Regions from separate parts of the Homo sapiens genome. Here regions 1, 3, 4 and 5 are each reported to be linked to region 2. Evidence: microRNA targets listed by miRTarBase, many of them from high-throughput screens and not tested one by one. Region 2 holds a microRNA gene; each other region holds the end of a gene's coding sequence.

Region 1 (4,000 bases), not on the chromosome of region 2:
TCATGGCCAAATCCAAAGTGAATCTGTCCTTTCCCCTAGAATGGTCTTGAAACCCTTCCATAGATTTATGTTGTCTGCCTTTATGTGAATGGTTTTAACAACTGAGAAATGTACTACAATGTCTTTATCTTTGATCGTCCACTTAGCCGTTATCAAATAAAGATTAGTATTTCTTACCTTCCAGTACCTTTTCTCCCTACTCCTGTCACCTCCTCACATCACTCATCAGCTTCAAAACTATAATGACTATTTCAGTAGAAGGCAAGTTTCTAGTTCCAAACTTTAAAATATAAACATCAACATACTTCTTCCATTGGCCCTGGTACCAATGCGTGTGCACTTACTGAACCTGCTTTCTGGGTTTCAGAAAACAAGAGTCAGATTTCAATAATGATTATTGAAATACTCTACTGAATAGGTCAGAACTTAATTTTTTGACTTTTATTTTTCACAGAACCACATGGGCTCAGACTTAATTTTTAAGATTCCATTAAAATATTTTGGTTGAAAATGTGATTTCATACTTGTCATTTTAAGGAGTATTTGTCATTTACACTCTATTATCTTCTTCATTTAGGGGCCACTGTATTTTGTGTTGCTCCGAATGCAGTATTTCCATTTGAACTGTATAATGAAGAATACTTAGAGCAAAGGGATCTCTATCTGACTCAGTGCCAACAACAGCTGGAACAATTTATTGCCACATATGGACCTGGGACAACTATTTTCTCTAGTGATGAATAAGCAATTTGAGGAATTTTTGTTCATTCCTACTTAAGCAGTGGAGAAAAAGTGTGACTATTTTGAGAGTGACTTTGAAGTAATGCTTTGATAATACTCTGTACAGGAATATATTACAATACTGTTTTTAAAAATATAAAATATAGTCCCCTCAAAACTAATTGCTAATGGGATAAATACTAATCCAAACCTCTAAAACCAACAGAATTTTAAAACTTAGAACAATGTGGACAATTTAAAGTGATAAAGTTGTCAAGGAGAATACTATAAAGAAAAACCTGGTTAGCCCAGAATACCAGTGGTGAACAGATAAAAATGTAAATGTTGCAATTTGAGCAGTGTGTAAAATGGCAACCTTTATGTAGTTCACTCTACTGTCACAAGATGGCAATAACTCTTTACCTACAAATTACTCTAAAACATTTTTCTTCCACTTGTGAACTTGCTAAACTGATGAGTAAATACTTTATATAACCCGAAGCTTCAAATGTAAGGCCTTTTCATACTTTATTACTGGCCTGTCCATTACATACTACTGTTTTAGAAGCCCTAAATATGGAATCGGGAAAAGCCTTGGAAGTTTTCCATACGTATACGCTAGGTTAAATGAAAAAAATACTTTACACGGAAACAAGGAGCCAATAACTTATAAATTGGCTCTCTAACCCTAACTGGTTACAAGAAAGGCTCCAAAAGGCAAAGAAACCAACTTGCAAATCTAGTCCTCATTTTTGGAGGGAAGATATCTGCTCTGAAAAGATAGGGGCACCATGAGAAAACAAATCCATCTTGTAAAATTTATAAATCCTTTTTAGTTCAGTTTCCATAACTTTAATAAAAGATCAGTTCTATTCACAGAAAAGCAAAATGTCATTACCAAATTGCCACTTTATTAACCAAGATGTTACCATGCATCAATTCTTTCAAAACTGGTCCCTTAACAGAGATGCTTAACTGTACAGCTGGACCTCTCCCACTCTCCACAGGACCCGGAGGAAGTTGTTCACTATTACTGAATACCTACTAGTAGCAGGGAGTAAACAGTATTAGTTTTCAGAAGCCAAAGGTAGTGTTTTTGTTTTTTGTTTTTTTGAGATGGGGTCTCGCTCTGTCATGCAGGCTGGAGTGCAGTGGTGTTATCTTGGCACTGCAACCTCCACCTCCCGGGTTCAAGTGATTCTCCTGCTGGGATTACAGGTGCACTCCACCATGACTGGCTAATTTTTGTATTTTTAGTAGAGACAGGGTTTCACCATGTTGGCCAGGCTGGTCTTGAACTCCCGACCTCAGGTGATCTGCCTGCCTCAGTCTCCCAAAGTGCTAAGACAACAGGTATGAGCCAACACGACTGGCGACTGTAGTTTTCAACAAAATACTTACATATTACAGTTCTATAATGTTAAGACGTTTATTTTGTGCTTCTCAAATACTACATTTCAAACATGTCTGGCTCTCTATGGGGGGAAGGCAAAACACATTCCTATTTTATAAAACTAGGATCCTTTTACAATTGGAAAGTTTAAAAACTTTTTTTTTTGGAGACAGGGGCTGTCACCGTTTGGAGGGTTGTGGCGCCACCTCAGCTCCCTGCAGCCTTGACCTTGCAAGTAATTCTCCCACCTTAGGCCTCCGAGTAGCTGGGACTACAGGGACATGCTACCACCCTGGGATAACTTCTGCATTTTTTGTAGAGATGGAATTTTGCCATGTTTCCCAGGCTGGTCTCAAGTCATCCTCCCATCTCAGTACCTCAGCTTCCCAGTGTTGGGATTACAGGAGTGAGCCACCATGCATGGCACAAAGATGGCTTTTATTTACTTATCTATATTTATATATACATATTTATATGTAGCTGTCACCCAAGCTGTAGTGTACTGATGCAATCATAGCTCACTGCCACCTTAATCTCCCCAGCTCAAAAAACCCAACCTCAGTCTCAAAGATGGTTACTTCACCACAAAAAAATTAAAATGTTTAAGTTTCTCATTAAAGAGTAGAAGTGTACATTCAGAAACAATTATGGGAGGTAATTCATTAATATTAAATATGCCAACGGTATTTTAAAGGTTATTGGAGAATTAGAAGGGGGTGGGGTGCAGGACGAAAAATTAATGGGTGCAATGTACACCATTCAGGTAATGGCTGCACAAAAAGCTCAGACTCCAAACTACTTCATATACCTATGCAACAGAACTGCACTTATACCCCCCAAATCTATACTGAGGGAAGTGACTAAGATGTTGCTATACAGGTTTTATACCATTTATCATATAAAAATTATAACCTTGGTAAAAGGAATTTATAAGCTAGTACTCAACAGGAGAAAAGATTTAGCTCTAAACCTTCACCCAGATATAAATTCAGCTTTAGAATTCTTGCCAATTTAGTCCTAGACAGACTGGTCTGCTCAGTCATTTCTCTTAACATAGCATATTGCTTAGTTATTACATGTACTAGTATTAGGATGACTTTTTTGTTCACAAAGATGAAAGCAAACTGAATAAAAAAGGTGAAACCTTTATCTGTAAGGGGGAATTTGATTGCTATTTGGTATTAAAGAGTTTTAAGATTCAACCACCTGGTACAACAGCAGGCTCTGAAGGGGAAGCCAGACAGGGAACCTAGAGGTACAAGCAATGTCTCCCCAGCTGTCAGCCTCAATGAGAATCACCACCCATAAATAAGCTAATTATTGACAAGATTATAATCTTTCGAATATGTTCAAAACAGGTCTGACTAGTGACTATGAGAATGGAGCTATTTAGAGTTGATTTAAAAGAAAACACTTTATTGTTCAGCAATTAAAAGTTAGCCAAATATGTATTTTTCTCCATAATTTATTGTGATGTTATCAACATCAAGTAAAATGCTCATTTTCATCATTTGCTTCTGTTCATGTTTTCTTGAACACGTCTTCAATTTTCCTTCCAAAATGCTGCATGCCACACCTCCAAAACAAAGTCAGAAACCACAGTGAAAATCATTCCATACTCAAAGTTCTCATATAACCTCAATATTCACAAGTGCCCCTCAAAAAACTAATGTTGAGAATACCACACATGCAAAAGCAACTTCAACAAGAATCTGCCCCCACCCTTAAGTTTATCAGATACTTTCTGAACTGTCAGCAGACATAGTTGCTTGACAAATCACTTACTTGAGGTAACGAAGCAGAAGTATTTTTAAACATGACAGCTAAGAACATTCATCTACAGCAACCTATATGCTAAAAACAAAGAATATTCACCCTTAATTAAAT
Region 2 (5,059 bases):
CTAGTGCGGGGCATCCTCATCCTGTACCTATAGAGTTCGTGCACTCCCCCATCCATGCTACCTACCTCCCCGTTTCTGTTTCAGTTTTAAGACAATGAAGCAGCATTCACTGCGTCATTGTAACATGAAGGGATAAAAATGAAGGAGAAGGAGGGTTTGGGATGGGTGTCTAAGGCAGGAGTTGACATCGGGCAACCAAAGAAATGAGTTTTGGGGAGGAACACAACTCCCATCCCAGTCAGTTTCCTTCCCATGGCTGCATCTTAAGATGGATGCACGGAGAAACCGTCTGCCTGGCTCCCTGTCTTCATTCTCCACGCAGCCTGGTGATGGCAGGCCTGGGTTTGGATTTCAGAATCCTAGCTCCGGGCTCCACTCGTGTGGCAGCAAGACTGCTTCGTTCCAGCGTTTAGAAACACACCTGTATTTGATTCTCAGCCAGGGGAGCACTCGCTGCACTGGTGGGAGGCGGTTGGGAAAGTTGCAGGAAAACCTTAGTCTTCCATCCTTCTGACCCATGGTGGAAATTCACACCATGGATTTTTAATGGATCTTTGTTCTAGGCAGCTGGGAATAGACATGGTACTTACCTTAGAGTTTTCCAATTTATCTCAATTTTATATGGCTTGTGATTCATTTTCTTAATCCAAATATATATAAACGTGTGTGGTCTTATTCTTCCCCCTGCAGTTTCTTGCTTTCTTCAGCACATCTTATAGTATGAGAAGGAAGGTTTGGGCATGTTGGGAAGGGCGGTGGAGGGGGAGTTGCAGAAAGAGAGGGCAGTGAGGGTGAGGAGAGGGGATCTGGGGACTTGGGTGTGACACCTGCTTGACAGAGGCAGGGCTGTGGCCAGGACCAACCTTCAATTCCATTCCAATCAGCCTTTGCATTTGTTGGATCTCGTGGCTTCTTTTTAATCTTTTGTTGGGGATTAGTTTCATGCTGCACATAATGGGGTTGCACTGGTCTGACCCAGGACTTTGGAGCCACCCACACTGGGAAGACTAGGCTAGGCAGTCGGTCTTCTAGGAGTTTCTCAGCCCCTTAGGACGCGGGTCTCCTTGGGCTCCCCCAAGGGTTCTGCGAAGAGGCAGTGGAAGAAGGCATGAGGAGAGGGTCTCTTGAGAATTTGCCAATAGGAAGGAGTGGCCACGGCTGAAAGGAACAAGACAGATCCTGACATAGCTTTGGCCTGGGTGTTAGGTCAGAAGGAGTACTGGTGCGTGGGGGCCTTACCCCAGGGTTGAGTATTTTATCTGTAAAATGTTATCTGCCCTTTGGCTGCATTGGAATTTCAGAGAAGGCTGCAGAGGCCTGGGTTACACAGCCTGAGTCACAACGTGGGAAGGAATCTCTGCCACGGGAAAGGTGGGCGGAAGCAGCTGGCAGCCTGGGGCGTGCTTCAGGCTCCTCCCTCTAAGGGGCGCCATGGGAACAGGCTCCGGAGGGAGCCGGCGTCTGAAAGGCCCCCGGGACCTGCTGCAGTGCCAGAGGGGCCTCTGGAGCAGGCCTGGCTTTTAAATGGGGGGCTGAATTCCAGCTCACACACACCTCAAGTCCAACCTTACTTTCTTCAGCCAGAATACATTTCTTGTAAAACCTGGCTTGTTGCTTGGCTTTTAAAGATGGTGTATGTTTGTAAAAATATTCTTCTGGGCTCAAAAGCTAGCTTGAGGGGGCAGATGCCCCAGGTGTCCCAGCTCCACAGCCCCTGGCAGATCCCAGACCCCTTGGTGGCAGGTCCCAGAGCCTAGGTGGTAGGAGCTTGATCTTTGTTTCTGCCCTTACCCCTCAGTAGTGGGGCTGCGAGGTAGTAGACAGGATGCCCAGTTAAGTTTGAATTTCAGATAGAAAATAATTTTAGAATAAATATGTTCTATCTAATACATGGGACAGATGTTATTTTTAGAGATAGGATCTTGCTCTGTTGCCCAGGCTGGAGTGTAGTGGTATGATCATAGCTCACCACAACCTTGAACTCCCAGGCTCAAGCGATCCTCCCGCCTTAACTGCCTGAGTAGCTGGGACTACAGGCATGCACCACCACGCCCAGCTAATTTTTCTTATTTTTTGTAGAGACAGGGTCTCACTGTGTTGCCTCACTCGAGCTGCTGACCTCAAGTGATCCTCCCACCTCAGCCTGCCAAAGCACTGGGATTACAGGCATGAGCCACCATGCCTGGCCAGGACATATTTGAAATGGGGAGATTTTAAAAATTCTGATGATTAGACTGAATCCTCAGACGTTCTGGTTTGATTGTTGTGGGTGTAGCCCAGGCATGGGATTTTTTAAAGAGCTGCTCAGGTAATTCCAATTTAATTGCGTGTCCTACTTGGGTTTTTTGTTTGTTTTTATTGTTTTTGCTAAACCTGGCAACCCTACCGAGTAGGGATTAGCAGTAACTTATCTGAAATTTAGAGGTGTTTTGGGGGTGGGGCGAGGGTTTCTGTAGTAGACTCAGATTTTACATGGCCCTGAGCTGCCCTTGCGTTCAGTTGGAAGCCACGCAAAATGAACTGAACCAGGAGTGAGCTTCGTGTACATTATCTATTAGAAAATGAAGTACCTTCTGGTTCAGCTAGTCCCTGTGCGTTGAGAGGCTTTAAGAAACTTCTAGTAAAAATGTTTTTTTCTTTTAGCTTTGAATTGGCCAGAGTTTATCCTAGATTATTTTATTTTAAATTGGTAGAATTCTTTGCGAACTGTCACAGAGAAATTCCTTTTCATGACTTTATTTCTGACCTATTAAAACATGAACAGGCCAGGCATGGTGGCTCACGCCTGTAATCCTAGCACTTGGGAGGCAGTGGCAGGCGGATCACTTGAGCTCAGGAGTCCTAAACCAGCCTGGGCAACATAGTGATACCTTGTCTCTACCAAAAGTTAAAAAAAAAAAAAAAAAAGCTCAAGAACCTGCACGAGGGCCTAAAACAGTGGGCTCAGCTTTGGCTGTGCATTGGAATCACCTGGGGAGATTTGTAAGCTTCTGCTGTCTGGGCTGAACCCCCAGAGGTTCGGATTGAATTGGTGTGGGGTGTGGTCCAGGCATCGAGATGTGTAAAGACCTCCCCAGGTGATGATATGCAGTCCGAGGTTGAGACTGCCCTGTCCTGCAAGGTCGTTGGCCAGAGGTAGAGGAAACTGGTCAAAGTGGCTGTTGGGCTTGTCAAGCCCGTGGCTGAATGACAGTGAGCTCTCTTGCTGGGAGGGTTCCTTTTCCTGTTGTTGAATGGTCCTGGCCTGCAGGATGGGAGGCCAGATGCCTTCAGGAGCTGGTGGATCCAGCTGTTCTCACCAGCCTGGAGGTTAGCAGACCAGAGTGGGTGGGCAGGACCTTGGCCTGGTGCCCCTGGAATCAGTGGGTGGCATGTGTTGGGATATACTGGCTACAGGCTCATCTCAAAGAGCAGGTAGAACAGAGTCAGCAGGGAACTGACAGGTGGGGCTGTCCCCCTGAAAGCAGCCGCAGAAACAGCTGCCACCTATTTGCATAGCTGAGCAGGAGGACATACTGTCTTTGTGGGTTTTGCTTCTGGTCTGTTTCCTGACTGGGTTGATAAAGGGAGTCCCAGCTCGTTCCCTGTTAGCCAAACCAGCATCCTACTCACACACCGGACACTCCAGGTGCTAGTCCACTGGTGCTGGTGTTCAGGGGAGTTGGGGGGGGGGGGCGCGGGGACAGAAGCGCGGGTTCTTGGTTCCAATGAGGGACTTAGCAGAAGCCTCCAGGGGCCAGCAGGGCCAGGTGAAACTGGGAGAAATGAAGCCCTCTGTGTCCTGTGTGTGTGGTGGGGTTTAATGCATTAGCAAATTTAAACTTAAAAACTAACTCTAGGCCGGGCACGGTGGCTCACACCTGTAATCCCAGCACTTTGGGAGGCCAAGGCAGGTGGATTGCCTGAGCTCAGGAGTTCGAGACCAGCCTGGACAACATGGTGAAACTCTTGTCTTTATTTTTTTAAAAAAACAAAAAGTAACTTTCGATGTGATCATACCAGGAAAGTTTTGCGTGGTCACCATGCCAAGAAAATGACTTTGGTTGCCCAGCAGATCCACAGCGACTCTTTCTCAAGGGCTACTGTGGATTCTAGATTGAGGAAAGGGGCCACTTAGGACTCAGTGCTGGTATCCTCCACAGTCCTTTCTCCCAGACTCTGGCCCTCCCTTTGGGACCCAGGAAATCCCCTCTAGGGTGACGCTGCTGGCTAGGAAGACTGAGGTCTGCTGCGCCAAGGGGCCTCAAGTTAGAAGGGCCATGCCGTCAGTGGATGACTTTGAGCGCTGATCCTAGGGACCTGCCAGGTCCTCACTTCCTGCCCTGGGTGCACACATGAATGGGGCAGCCAGCAGGAAGCGGGAGAGGCTGGAACCAGGAGCCTGCCCTACCTGCATGGCAGGACAACTCTGAGGCCCTTCTGCCATATTCTCTGCTACCCACCAGAGAAAATAGGCTGCCTTCTAGAAAGATTTGTTTCTAAAAGCGTAGACCCTGGGGAAGTATAATGTCACCATGCTCACCAGGCGAGGTTTCCCATATGACCTCCCTGCCCCGACCTCGTAGGTTGCTCCTTTCCCCATCTGTAAGGTAGAGATGTCTGCCCCGGAGCTACCAGCTGGGGATGGCATCCAGGCCATGTCTCCTGCAGGATCCAAGTGCTGTTGTCCCCAGGGTGACCCTGCCTCCTGCTGGGGCCCATCCGCTTTGCTGTGCTGCACAGGCTGTTTTCATCTGCATGGTTTGGGGTCTTTGTCCTTGTGCCTTTTCTTCCCCATCGCCACTGTACAGGATTTTCCACATTGCCCACTGCCTCCTTTTCTACATCGTCTCATCTCCCTGGCCTTTCCCGAGCCCTGTAAATGTGTACTTTTTCAACGTGCCTCCCCCAGGTGAGGCCAGCTCTCCCGGGCACATTCGTCCACAAGGATCAGGCCCCACTTACCCTTGGCTCGCTCAGCCTGTAGACTTGGTAACTTTGTACAGAATCTTTCATTATTGTCTTAAGCATGGGGGGCTAGGACCCACTTAGTCCCTCCTCCAGCCTGCAGCTAATTTAG
Region 3 (4,000 bases), not on the chromosome of region 2:
CTTGGACCATCCCACCACAACTCCCACAGAACACCTTCTCATCTCTCAGGACAAGCCCACAAAAACCACCCTGAGAGACCTCGAACCTGCAGGAAGGTCCAGGAGGGCTGCTCCGCCTCGCTGCAGAAGGCGCGGCACCAGGCTGAGCTTGTCAACAGTCAACCAAACCTTAGAAAACCCCAAATCCTCCCCACAAATGAGTCATCTGAAAGTAAAACCCGTGGCTACAGGGAAGAGACACTGAGTCTCATCCTCTATGCCTCAGAAAATCACTATTAACTAAGAATCAGGGAACTGATAAACCAAATGCCCTCATCCCACAAAACCGTCCACACTGACAATCCCATTCTACTGCTACAGATTTCAAACGGCTCACAGATAAAGACAGGGCTGTCCACTCGCAGTCCCTTGAACGCTGGGGCTGGAAGGAACGGGATGTCCTGCGCTGCCTTTCCACTAAGCCTCTGCTCAACAGGTGTCAAGTGCCACTCTGTCCCCTGGGTCCCACCATCATCTGGCCACATTTACAGGCTGTGACAGCAGCAGCCAAATGTTCGGTTTTTACACTCTGTCCAGGCTTGACTACATTTCCCTTAGCTATCCCCTAAAAGCCTCACATCATGGTGATGAATTATAGATCAAATGCACTCCCGACTGTCATACCCTCTTAACTCACCGAGCCGTGCCATTCCCACGTGCTTCTAAATGGCCAGCAGAGCCACCAGAAACGGGCAGAGGCGAGAACATGACTTCAACTTGGTGTTTCTGGTGGATATGTTTTCAGACACCCAGAAGAACTGCGAAGAGACAGCTTCTCTGTATAGCATCCCTCGGAGATGCTGCAGACTTGGTTCCAGGCCATCGCAATAAAGCAAATATCACAGTAAAGTGGGTCACACAAATGTTTTGGTTTCCCAGTGCATATTAAAATGTTTATGCTACATGATAGTAGAAAGTGAGCAATAGCATTATGTCTTAAAGAATCCAATTATATACTTTAATTTAAAATATATTATTGCCAAAAAGTGAGCACATGCTGTTGGAAAAACGGCACCAACAGATCTGCTTGAAGCAGGGTTCCCACAAACCTTCAATATGGAAAAGAAACTCCACTGTATCTGTGAAAACACATAAAGCAAGTACAATAAAATGAGGTGTGCCTGTAATATGACCGTCCAACACAAGTAACCTTCCATCAGTGTTCCCACAAACACTGTATCCTCAACATGTCACCCGATGATGCAACCCCAGTACCTTGAGATGGGGTATATGGAGGATTTGCTCTTACATGTAGTAGACTGAGTGGGTCGAGGCTTAACAAAAGAAACTGCAAGTGAATGAGATAAAGCTACGGAATTTTGTTGAGTACAGCAATTTAGTGAGTCACTTCATTTTGCTAGATCTTCATTTCTGAAATGAATTTTAGACAAAATAACTGAAATCAATTATCAGGCCAGCCCACGAAGTACTGCTGAGCACAGGCATTGCTAGAAGTCACAACCAATAACACAACTGGCAGTAAGCGCCTTATCACAGAGATGGAGAACCTGATCACAGAGCCCACGACGGAGGCCCTGATGCCCATCTCCCTGCAAAGCAGATGAGATGTCCAAACTGTACTTCCAGACCTGGCCCATAAAATAAGATGGAGTGTGGAGATCACAAAAGTAGGTACCTACCTGGAGATAAGCTAACTCTAGATTTTTTACAGGAAAGCTAGTTTCATGCCATAAGATATTAAAGCTCTTCCTTACCAGAAAAAAACCTTATACAAAGCAAGACAGGCTGTATTTCCTGTGTTCTAAATTATCGTGGGAACCTCAGTTACATCCTCTCCTGCCATGTTTTGGGGCTTGGAGGTAAGAAAGAGGTAAAGCAAACAGATAACACTGTAAAGGGATGAGAGGTAAGTAGAAAAGAGAAAACAACTGAAAAAGCAAAAAAAGGTTCTTTGTCGTCTGCACAAAGCACTTCCTGCTCTGGGTTTCCATCATGCCTTTTCTGAGAACCAACACCTCGTTTCCTAATCCACTACTATCCCATGCTGTGACGGGAGGACCATGACCACCAGCACAAAGGACCACAGCAGAACATAAACAGTGCAGGTGAGGAAAATGCAAACTTTGCCGTAGAAAGCAGAACCATGTGAATTTCCCGTGAGTCACCCTCACTCTAAAGAACACTCACATATTTGGTAATGGCTCTCATGAGCTGGGCCGGTGACAGAGGGCATCTCCACCAGAACCATCTCCGGTCAGGCCACATGAGGGTGGAGGCATGGTATAGCTGACGTTCAGGTTGACGAGGAGACACTACAAAGGCTTGCCATCCTGGAATTTACCAAACCCAAGAAGCTGGACACTGATACTTTTTTTTTTTTTTTAAGACGGAGTCTCGTTCTGTCACCAGGCTGGAGTGCAGTGGCACGATCTCAGCTCACTGCAACCTCCGCCTCCCGGGTTCAAGTGATTCTCCTGCCTCAGCCTCCCAAGTAGCTAGGAGTACAGGCACATGCCCCAACGCCCAGCTAATTTTTATATTTTTAGTAGAGACAGGGTTTCACCATGTTGGCCGGGATGGTCTCGATCTTTTAACCTCGTGATCCACCTGCCTCAGCCTCCCAAAGTGCTGGGATTACAGGCGTGAGCCAGCTTGCCCGGCTGACACTGACGCTTCTTTTTAAAAGAAAACATTAACAATGACATCCAGCACATCTTTATTGCTCTGCTTGCTAACAAGCAGCACACCTGTGTTCCAGTGGTGAAATCCATGTGCTCAGCAACACAGTGCAGACTGCAGGCTTCATCACATCCCCAGCACGTGACCCATGGAAATCAGAGACTGGAGCTGCTTCCTGCCATTTCCGAGAATGAAAAGAAACAGAATTCACTAACATCTTAAAAATCCTTCTACAGTGATTTTATTATAAATATGTTCTTTTGGAATAAACAAATATTGCATTCAAGACTATGGGCAAACTTGCTCTAAAGTAACAAACGAGGAAGAAAGGAACCAGGAACCATTTAGAAGTGGAGAAAAACACAGCAAAGACACCTGCATGCCACGCTCAGCGCCTTTCTCCCAGGGAGTAACAGAAGGTTAACAGGGAACATCACATTGCCCATGAGCCCATTCTACTCAAATAAGCTTTGAGTTTGGTAATTTGCACTTGTTTTGTAAACTGAACTGCTCCTCTCCTCAGCCGCAAGAAGCAGATAGGAAGACAGTCTTCAGACCCCGAGCATCAGCAAGAACACTCTTGATTGTGTATCTGTAACTCTGTTCCAGGGCAAAACTGTTCCCTATTTGCTGGAAGTAATGTCAGAGTAATCCTTCAGCACTCCAGCCAAGTGTTCGTTATGAGTCTTAAAGCGTCGCTTTTTCTGTGAAGCAGGCTTTTTCCTTCTCTGAATAGGGGCCTAAAGGAAAAGGTAAAAACAATTAGAAACAACAGCTGCTCTGAGGGGTGGTGTGGCCAGGATGTTCTGAGCATGCCCAGATGCCAGTGGCTGAGGATGCCAGGTTCGGACCCTTCTCCTGCTCTGCCACCCAGCAGCACACATGGGGCACAGCACACGCCCTGACCAGACCCCGGGCCTTTGTTCCCCTGAGATGCAGATGCCATCGGGAATGAAGGAGCAGGCACAAAAACCTGCCAAAATGGTTCTAGGCACTAAGTCAAACAAAAGGGACGATGAAGCCCTTCAGCTCTGTCTCTGTCATCAGGTTTAAAAACGTATCCACCATTACCGATTTTAAAAAGATCTGAAGAAAATATGGCAAAATCCTGAGAAAGGAGGAGCACATGAAGGTCTGTAATATTCTCTATTCTTTTCTATATACTTGAAATATTAGCATCACATGATGAAAAAAATTAACAAATGAGACAATAATAGGAAATCATGAAGGGCTGCAATTACACTCATTTGTGGAAAGAGATTGACAATAAAGCTTCCCTTTAGGTGAGTCCTAAAAATTCACCAAACACACATGCCCACCC
Region 4 (5,059 bases), not on the chromosome of region 2:
TTACCTTTATAGCTAAAATATCAACAAAATGGTAAGAATGTTCCTGTAGGTTGAATTCATCTGCTACATTTTTTTTTTAACCGTGGGTTGCACTGATTCTAAATATGGTTTAAGTGGAACAAAATCTAGCAAACAGCATTCTATCCAGGCTGCATTGGAGCAATTCTAATAAAAGAAGGCAGTGCTGCTAAGGGAGAAGTGGTAGGAATCTCCCAGAGAAGCCCCAGGTAAGTGTAAAGAAGTCTAATTGTTGGTGAGGAGAGAATACAAAATTATCTTAGGTAGTCTCTGGCTCAACAACTTTATGTTATGGATGAAATACATTAAAATAGGCTGGGTTTAATTTCTAGAAGTATATTTCTGACGCTGATGTATAGCACAATTTGCTCTACTGAATTATCATTGAGTATATAATTTTAGAACCTGGAAAATACAGTGTTTTAGTAGTCACATAAACATTATAATGAAAATTGAGTTCTATTTTCATTTGGAGTGAAAATGCATGCTAAGTTGAATTCAAACATTGAGTATAGTTTTTAATAAATTCTAAGATAAAAATAGCATATTTGATTCCCTAGAAAAGAGCAATGTTTCTATTTTATAGCGACCTTAATGCTAGTTGTCTTGATTTAAAGAGAATCAGGATGAAACACGTATATATCTCAGTACAACCAAGGACCATAAATGGTAAATGCCGAGTTGATTGATATTGTGATTTTTAAGTTTTATTGATTAAATTCAAACTTTTTTATCATTTACACAAAGAAACTGTGACAGACTCTGAGAGGACTAAAAGGCATCAACTTAAATTTTAACATGCATTTATTAAATTTATATGCAGATGACTACACTACTGCAATTACAGAAATGAGTAAGAACATACTCTCAAGATCTTACAGTCATTGGTTGGGGTGAAAGTATTTCTTCTGTCTTCATGAAAAATTAAAAAGATAGAAAATCTTGAAGTATTTTGCTACCTTAAAACAACTACCCACCCTACATTTGTACTAAAATAGGCTTTTGCTTGTTTTAAAAGCAATTCTAGATGAGGTTATATTTTTACAATACTGTATCTCATCTCAAATAAATTTATACATTCTTTACCCTGTCTAAACTTGCATGCAAAATAAGAACCAGCAAGCCTTCAAACTTCAATCACAGTATTCCATAGGCTATATTTTAAGTCTATTGCATTAGTTGAAATTTATTTTGCAGAGTATGTTAACAAACATATTCTAACACTTAAAAAATCATTACAATTTTTTCTGTTTTTGTCTTCTAAATTACTCTGAGCAGTGAATTACTGGAGGGAAGATACCCATGTCTAAAATTTGTGTCTGGTGCCAGTCTCAGATTTCTGCCAAACACCAGTAGGTATTCAAAAGTGTGGTCCCTTTAAAACAGCAGGCCGGATATCACCTTTCTGTCTTCAAAGATTCAAACCAGACTCCCAATCTGGGATTTCTCTACAGAGGGTTGGCTGCTTCCCAGTTAATGTGAGTTTTGCAAAGTTTGCATTTCATGAAAACAGTGTTGTGTAAACATATATTGTGTCACTTTACCTACTATTTACTAAAATCAGAGAGTTTAGCCTTTGAAATTTATGGTTCTCTGGAGCTATCATAAATCAATCAGTCATACGAATGGACTAGCTGTAGACTCAGGATATCAATAAAACTAGGCAGTGAAATTTGCCTATAATTATACTATATTTAGATTAATAGTTATCAAAAACATTTTTCCCCAAAAAATACCTCAAGGGTAAAACAGAATGGTAAAGTTTTTTTCAGGATAATGAATTTTCAAACATTTCCAAGACCATAACCAGCCATTTTAAGTACTGTAAACTCTGTTATATTTCATTTGGATAAGTATCTAATAAGCAATTATTACATATCCTCTCATTTAAATTACCACTGAAAACTAGAAATAATCTTTATTTAATACGACTGTTTTAACACCATATGGAACGGGAAATAACTAAATGAAAATTGTTCACGTAAATGTGATGGGAGTGGGGGGGTGGGGAGCAGTATTTCTTGACATGTGGCATGTCACTCAGGAAAGTAAAAGGCCCATCATATCCAAAATGCCAGCTTGGATATTCCCTTGCCACCCACTTGACGAACAGACATACCACATGGCATTAAATGCTGCAACCTTTCCTAAAAATGCCACTTGGATTGGTCCGCTGTGGTGAGTATATAAGAACTCTTGGTCTGTCTCTTGAGTCTGTGAGTTCAAAGGGAAGAATCTAGTAAATAACACCGGCTAAATTTTGCCCTCAGATGTTTGGCATAAATGATTTGTGAGGATATTGGAACCTTTGGCTGTTTTCACACCAATGAAATAAATTATGCTACTTGAAAAAAATTCTACAGAACATAATGCTACACAGTCACAGTCGACTTTTTGCAAAAGTACCAGAGAATATCTTTTAGAAACAGTGCTTATAAAGCCCCATATACTCCTTAGATATTTCCCAAGGATTTCTTCTCTTGGCTAGCAGGAAAACAATCTTAATATTTTATTTATTCTTCATAAATACAATGTATATAATATAAAACACTTTGTGCACATGTTTCCAACAATTTCATTTTCTATGCATCTTTACATAAGGTAGTAGCTAATAACTCTTTCTGTGGACACGTATTTTCCAGTTTTCTAAGGTTTATGTGTTCAAGCATTGTAAAAACATATTTAAAAATTGAATTACCAGTAAAAATATTGAATGTACAGGTCATTATGCTCCCACAAATACAAAATACATTGAAAAATTATATCAACAGATAATTACATATGAAATATGAGGCATATATTTTCTTCTATTATTTATTTTCTCCCTAAAGAGTTCTAATTGATTAAATCTCAAGAGACAAAATGTAATTTTATAAAACAACTGTATTGTTCAGATTTAGGAGACAACCTAAGAAGATGATTCTGAGTAGGTAGGATTTTTGCTATTACTGTTATGTGAAAAAGACTGCTCAATTAAATGACAGATTGTTACATATCTCCCTAACAAGAGGGGCGAACTGATACTACAAGCAGCCAGAACAACATAATTAGAATAGAATTCCAAGGTTATATTAATAGAGTAATAAGTTAATTAAAACCAAGATCAACTGAGCTTCTATTTACACCAGTTCAGACAGCCCAAGAGGAAAAGAACTCTATTTTAGAGACATATGTGACTCTTTGAGCTTCTGTCATCCAGGTGCCATTTCTGATGCAGCACATGTGCACTGAACAGTTGGCAAAGAAGGAAAAAGATTATGGTAGATGTATGTGCAGATAGTCTCTCTAATGATGTAAAATACGTCCAGAAAGAAAGCAGGGCTTTGTTGTAAAATAAAAAATTTCCCATGACTTTTTGTTCTTTCTGAATGTGATTTGAGCATGTTTCTGTAAATAAGAATATATACTAACTTATGATGTATATAGAACAAAAATAGACTTACTCATCAGGAAGTGATGGAATTATACACATAAATTGGCAATGACATTTGAAAAATTTAGGATCTGGTTCCCATTTCATCTAAATGTACCATGTATAGGGTGGCTGTCAAAGCAGAAAGATATATAAAAGTATCCAGTAGCACATACTATACTGCATTGCTAGGTAAGGTTCTTTTCCTGACATCCTATGCAACTATCAAAAATCATATGTCTGCAAACTGAAAATATTAGCAGAAAGAATTAAAGATGTTACAGTTTCAGTATTGAAAGTTTTGGTCCCAAAAGGTGCTTTCGTAAAGTTATTTCTCTTTCATGCATTGATTGTTGCTTAGCTAATCTTCATCTTGGTCCAGATCAGGGTCAACATCCGTGGTGAGTCTGAGATAAAAGAAAGCATAGAAAGCCAGTAGTAGTGCCAATATAGCTGCAAGTACAAGGCCAACTTCCTGGGAAGAAAAAAAAAGTAGACTTGAAATTGATGAAAAAAGATTGGTTAACATTATTAGTTTCACCAGATAAAATAACCATATTGTTCCACAGTCTAGAATGAATAATTTGAACCTAATAATCATATCCTTTTTGTTTACCATTTTTTGCCGTTAAGAAACTGTTTTGTACTGGCAAGTCCCAATGAAATGGCAAATACACCAGTGGGTGAGTCATTAGTATTATTATTTCTAGCTAATTTGTTTTTTCCTTATAGTAATATTAAAAATGTATCATTTTAATATATTTTTATAGTTTGGATATCAGGATGTTCGATACAAGCAATGCAGTTTGTATCTACACAGTTGATCTGTTTTCTATTTGAGTGTGTTTAACTTTATTTGTGGCTTCAATACATTCAGTATTAATGATAGCATTTGGGCACAGTTTTTTTTTTAATTATCATTCCTTTTCATTGTAAAGAAACAGTTGTAACTGGTCTCTAGATTATATATAGATGTATACATACTCATTAAATGTGACTTTGTTGAAACTCTAATTTTTAAATCCTAAAGTCTATAGTTTACACTGCAGAGGAACAAAACAAAGTACTCTTCACTCATGAAGCATAATACAATACATTTATCACAGTTTTGAAGGATGGGCCCAGATTTTTCATTTGTGATGTGATGTGGATTAAATTAATCAACTATATTGTAATAATGATAAAAAATTTACTCATATATTATGATAAAAATCATATTATCTCTCAAAAAGTATGTATATGTATATATCTCTGTGTGTATACCTTCCAGAACTTTCTTAACATTAACATATCATTTGACTAAATCAAAAAAGAAAAAAAAAGCAAATAGAATGCCAGTTCAGTATCCTAAAGGGCTTACATACTATATTCTAATTTCTACTGTATATTATGCCCTTTACCTAGCACTGCTTTACAGAGAAGCAATGCATTAGCATTTACATGAATATAGTTTACATTTCACAAGAAGGTAAGTCAGTAATAATAAACTTTAAAAACATTAAAATGAATTTGGCTTATAATCAACATGGAATTTTTACATGAATGTTGAATTTATAAATAGATCTTTTATACAGATTTTTAGCTTCATAATTACATTTATTTAGATGTCCAAACTATGAAAATAAATAT
Region 5 (4,000 bases), not on the chromosome of region 2:
AATCCTTCCACCTCAGCCTCCTATGTAGCTGGGACCTGAGGCATGTGCCACTACACCCAGCTAATTTTTTGATTTTTTTTGTGGAGACAGGGTTTTGCCATGTTGCCCCAGGCTGGTCTCTAACTCCTGGGCTCAAGTGATCCTCCCACCTCAGCTGCTTAAAGTGCTGATATTACAGGCCTGAGCCATCATGCCCATCACCAATTATCACATTTTTAGAAATTTTGCATCCTAGTTACTAAACCAGTGGTAGATTGAAATTGACCATGAGGGAGCATGAGCATTTACATTGAGCTGGCAAATGCTGTATGTCAGGATTCCTCCTCCAGAGTCTGCTATTAAACATGTACCAGCCACCATTATATATATGCTAGATACACTGCAGTTATTAAGAATTATATATATGTACACGTATATATACTATTGATACAGTGTAATTGTTAAACATTTAAAAAAATGAAATACAACTTTCAGGGCACATTTCAGCCAAATTCATATTTATTCCAGTCTCTAACACTCTGTTGTTATGTCTGCTGTAAGATGATCAGGAGTTAGTATGAAGTATTCTTCTCTACGCACCAAAGAAAACAAACAAAGCAAACTTCAAGTCAGTGAATTAGTTACCACAGTTAAAATGCATTTGATTTTGTCCTTTTCCTTTTTCACAAGAACGACAGCTGAATACTCTTTCATGTGATGCCTGATATTTTTCTTTTTCTTTTTCTCTCTTTTTTGAGACAGGGTCTTTAAGATGGGGTCTCGCTCTGTTGCCCAGGTTGGAGTGCAGTGGTGCAATCTTGGCTCATTGCAACCTCAGCCTCCTGTTTTCAAGTGATTCTTCTGACTCAGCCTCCCAGGTAGCTGGGATTACAGGCATGTGCCACCGTGCCCGGCTAATTTTTGTATTTTTAGTAGAGATGGGGGTTTCACCATGTTGGCCAGGATGGTCTCGAACTCCTGACCTGAAGTGATCCACCCGCCTCGGCCTCCCAAAGTGCTGGGATTACCGGTGTGAGCCACTGTGCCAGGCTCTGATGTTGATATTTTTCTGTTACAGTCCTTAGCCCAGGCATCCTGTAGCACTCTGTGTCCCAGACTTTTTGATGCAGAAACAAGACTGAAGGAAGATTGTCCAATATAGGAAAGATTCAACTTTTCCTCTATGTGTTTGTCCGCTGGTATTCCTATGAGGCATTTGAGTTACAGGTAGCAGCACATCAGCAAATGACTCCGCTCCCTCTCTCAGCACACATAGCCTAATTGTTACAGAACCCCGAAGGGACACCTGAATGTCCTTTCTTTCAAGGCAATATGTATGACACGCTTTCAAATCTCCTCCTGCCTACTCTGCTTACCTAAAGGGCAAGGGGAGAAAATCCAGCACTGACATAGAGTCTGTAGGTTGAATAAGGCAGCCAAGATTAGAGAGATGTAAGTGAAGAAACCCACTTTATCTGGCTTTGGAGAGAGCTAGTGACTTAAGGCAGGATGTTCATCTGTATCATGTTGACTGGGACAGTCCTGGTTGTTCCCAGTGCAGCTCCATTATCATCCATCTGGCAGTGGGGAGTCTCTGCTGCCCATGTGGTGCTGGCATATGCAGTTCTGCTCATGCTCCTAACGTGAATGCATAAAACACCCCTGCAGTGCCACAGCACTGCTATGAGTTCATGGAAGGCGTAGGTGAGGATACAAGGCAAGAGTGCTCTGGCACCAACACTTGGAGGGGCCACCTGAGCATAAGTTTTCTTAGAGGCTCAGAATTCAAATTGCTAATAGGCTCTTGGAGCAAAATTGCAAAGGACAGATAGGCTTGTTGGTGGCTTCTGTTTTCTTCGCTAACAATCCAGGTTAGTTCTGATTTCCTTCCTGGTCACTTAAAACACCTTAGTAAGTGTGTTAATTGACTTTTAGAGTTGCAAAGGGCTTTTTATTCCATTCAACCCCTGTTCAATTTACAGGTGAGGAAACTGAAATAAGGTACTTAAGTGACTTGCCTAAAGTCACGCAGCTGGCGAGAGGTAGGAGCAGGCTTTCTGACACACTCATCTGGCATTCTTGAGGCTATCCCTACAAATCCTCTTGACCTCTGGTAGAAATTCCACCTCCACCAAATATCTTTCTAAATACATTCATAGCTGGGTGGCTGGATATGGACTCTGAAGCAGAAGATGCTTCATGAAATATTTTTGGTTTATCTAATAACTTTGGTCCAAATACGTATACAGAACTATATACTGAGGTAGCATTACTGAATTTGCCATACGAAACATCTTCACTTTCATCCATCAGGTCAGAATTTGGGAGTCAAGTCACAGACTACTTAAATTGGGTCTTTTTCTTCTTAGACAAATTTATACGACTTTTTTACATTTTTGGCCATCTTCCTATTTAATTCTTTTATGCGATGAATGTATATTTCATGAGGCAATAATTAACCTTCACCAACTTGGCAGGTTGCTTTGTTAGTCAATTATAAGGCTAACAAAATATAAAGGTCATGACTTTGGGAGAAGAAATGCCTTGTGACTCTAAGAGGTTCAGTGACTGCTGATCTACACTTTAGGACTTGTATGATCACCCCCTTTTTATACTAGAATTTAGGCTGTTTGGAGTTGACTTTTACTATTTCAGCTATCAGAATGATGCAGCATTGAATTCCTCCCAAGTGGCTAATCTAGTACGAATACATTAGCAACCCAAATCAGCCTATAAGGAATCAAGTTAAATGATCTTATACTCATGTCCTTTTTTCTACACTTGGGATTTTCACGCAAAAATAAAGACTGACTTACTTGGTAATATTATGATTACAGAATTTGAGTTGCTTCTAAAAAATAATGCAGAGAGAAATACTGAAAATGATGAAGACTTTTTCAAATGTTATAATACGGTCATTTATAAATGACTATTTATATATGTCAGTTACATACATAGTGACAGTTATAGTAAAACACTAGGAACCTGTACTTAAAAAGAAAAAACAAAATCCTGTACACAAAACAAGCATACATATATAAGGATTTGAATCTATGTATATATATTTTACATTTTTCAACATTTGTGTTTTATTCCATTAACATAACCATTTACAGTTATTCCAGAAATTTCAGTCATACACAGTGCTCTTGAATCCAAAGAGTGGTCTAGTGTGTTGGCATTTTCATCAAGTACAGTCCTAGAAAATGTCAAGTTGAACAATAAGATATTGAGGCACATTGGTCACTGTGTATTCTGAATTCTTTAGTATGGTCAGAGGAAGTAGTTAATATATTTCATGTTGATTCTTTGGCTACTCTTGATTTTTGCTTTGGGTAACATCCTCATCCTGGGAACATTCATTACCACTTAATAGCAAGATAACATTAAAAAAAAATCCTTCATTGCCACATTTAATAGCATGTTTAAAAAGGCAGAGGTTGCAATGAGCTGAGAACGCACTACTGCACTCCAGCCTGGGTGACAGAGTGAGACACTGTCTCCAAAAAAAAAATGTTTAAAATGAGACCAAACCCTCATGGAGACATTTCTCTGTTCTATTAGAAACGCAATGGCATTCTCATAGATCCTCTTTCTTTTTTATGATCACTTGTCTAACCAGAGCTGCTATGTCAGGCCTGATGACTTCAATGGGCTCCTCTGGCTTCCAGAACTTCACAACTTGACCCTCAGGGTTGACAAGATACTTCCAAAAATTCCACCTTGGTTCCTTCTTTGAAGAATCTAAAATATCCAGAACATATTTTCATGAGCATAATTTTATTCTTTGTCAAGATTTTCACTTCTATTAGTATCTGCATAAATGATAACTTTAGTATCAAGTTCTAGGACTGTCATAATATAAAAAACAAAACACCCAAACGAAGTGAAACTCAAGGTTAGAGTAACCAGATTTCAATATACTTGATGACTTCACCTATGAGTCTACTCATCTAGTATGTGATCTTAGTATCAAGAAATGAAGCAAAGTAGGCTGGGAGCCGTGGCTCAGTCTGTAATC

The links. Region 2 holds the annotated microRNA hsa-miR-4724-5p (AACUGAACCAGGAGUGAGCUUCG, at 2,519-2,541, shown strand). A microRNA usually pairs through its seed, bases 2 to 8, with sites in the 3' UTR of a target mRNA and lowers its output. Matches are read on the target gene's strand: a 7mer-m8 pairs with bases 2 to 8, a 7mer-A1 pairs with bases 2 to 7 and ends in A, and an 8mer does both.
Region 1: miRTarBase lists MCMDC2 as a target of hsa-miR-4724-5p. Seed matches in the 3' UTR shown: 7mer-m8 at 1,556-1,562.
Region 3: miRTarBase lists GTF2E2 as a target of hsa-miR-4724-5p. Seed matches in the 3' UTR shown: 7mer-m8 at 3,181-3,187.
Region 4: miRTarBase lists TRIQK as a target of hsa-miR-4724-5p. Seed matches in the 3' UTR shown: 7mer-m8 at 3,245-3,251.
Region 5: the mRNA of GPX8 is a reported target of hsa-miR-4724-5p. Seed matches in the 3' UTR shown: 7mer-A1 at 2,854-2,860 and 7mer-A1 at 2,250-2,256.

The regions. Positions count from the first base shown.
Region 1 is chr8:66,918,426-66,922,425 of GRCh38, forward strand. It overlaps MCMDC2 (minichromosome maintenance domain containing 2), which reads left to right. Exons shown (of 15, transcript NM_173518.5): 15 at 578-3,623. The coding sequence ends at 744. It overlaps SNHG6 (small nucleolar RNA host gene 6), which reads right to left. Exons shown (of 4, transcript NR_152600.1): 3 at 3,899-3,960; 4 at 3,265-3,689. Among named protein-coding and RNA genes, the nearest start is that of SNORD87, 2.1 kb to the right of the region's middle.
Region 2 is chr17:31,532,375-31,537,433 of GRCh38, forward strand. It overlaps MIR4724 (microRNA 4724), which reads left to right and starts at 2,509; the gene lies at 2,509-2,597. It overlaps RAB11FIP4 (RAB11 family interacting protein 4), which reads left to right. Exons shown (of 15, transcript NM_032932.6): 15 at 1-5,059. RefSeq lists an enhancer at 3,137-3,436.
Region 3 is chr8:30,575,619-30,579,618 of GRCh38, forward strand. GTF2E2 (general transcription factor IIE subunit 2) reads right to left here. Exons shown (of 8, transcript NM_002095.6): 8 at 2,700-3,419. The coding sequence ends at 3,303. Among named protein-coding and RNA genes, the nearest start is that of SMIM18, 61 kb to the right of the region's middle. RefSeq lists a silencer at 135-184.
Region 4 is chr8:92,882,831-92,887,889 of GRCh38, forward strand. TRIQK (triple QxxK/R motif containing) reads right to left here. Exons shown (of 5, transcript NM_001171797.2): 5 at 704-3,905. The coding sequence ends at 3,792. Among named protein-coding and RNA genes, the nearest start is that of TRIQK, 81 kb to the right of the region's middle.
Region 5 is chr5:55,163,778-55,167,777 of GRCh38, reverse strand. GPX8 (glutathione peroxidase 8 (putative)) reads right to left here. Exons shown (of 3, transcript NM_001008397.4): 3 at 481-3,723. The coding sequence ends at 3,560. All of the region lies in intron 2 of CDC20B (cell division cycle 20B), which reads left to right. Among named protein-coding and RNA genes, the nearest start is that of MIR449A, 4.8 kb to the left of the region's middle.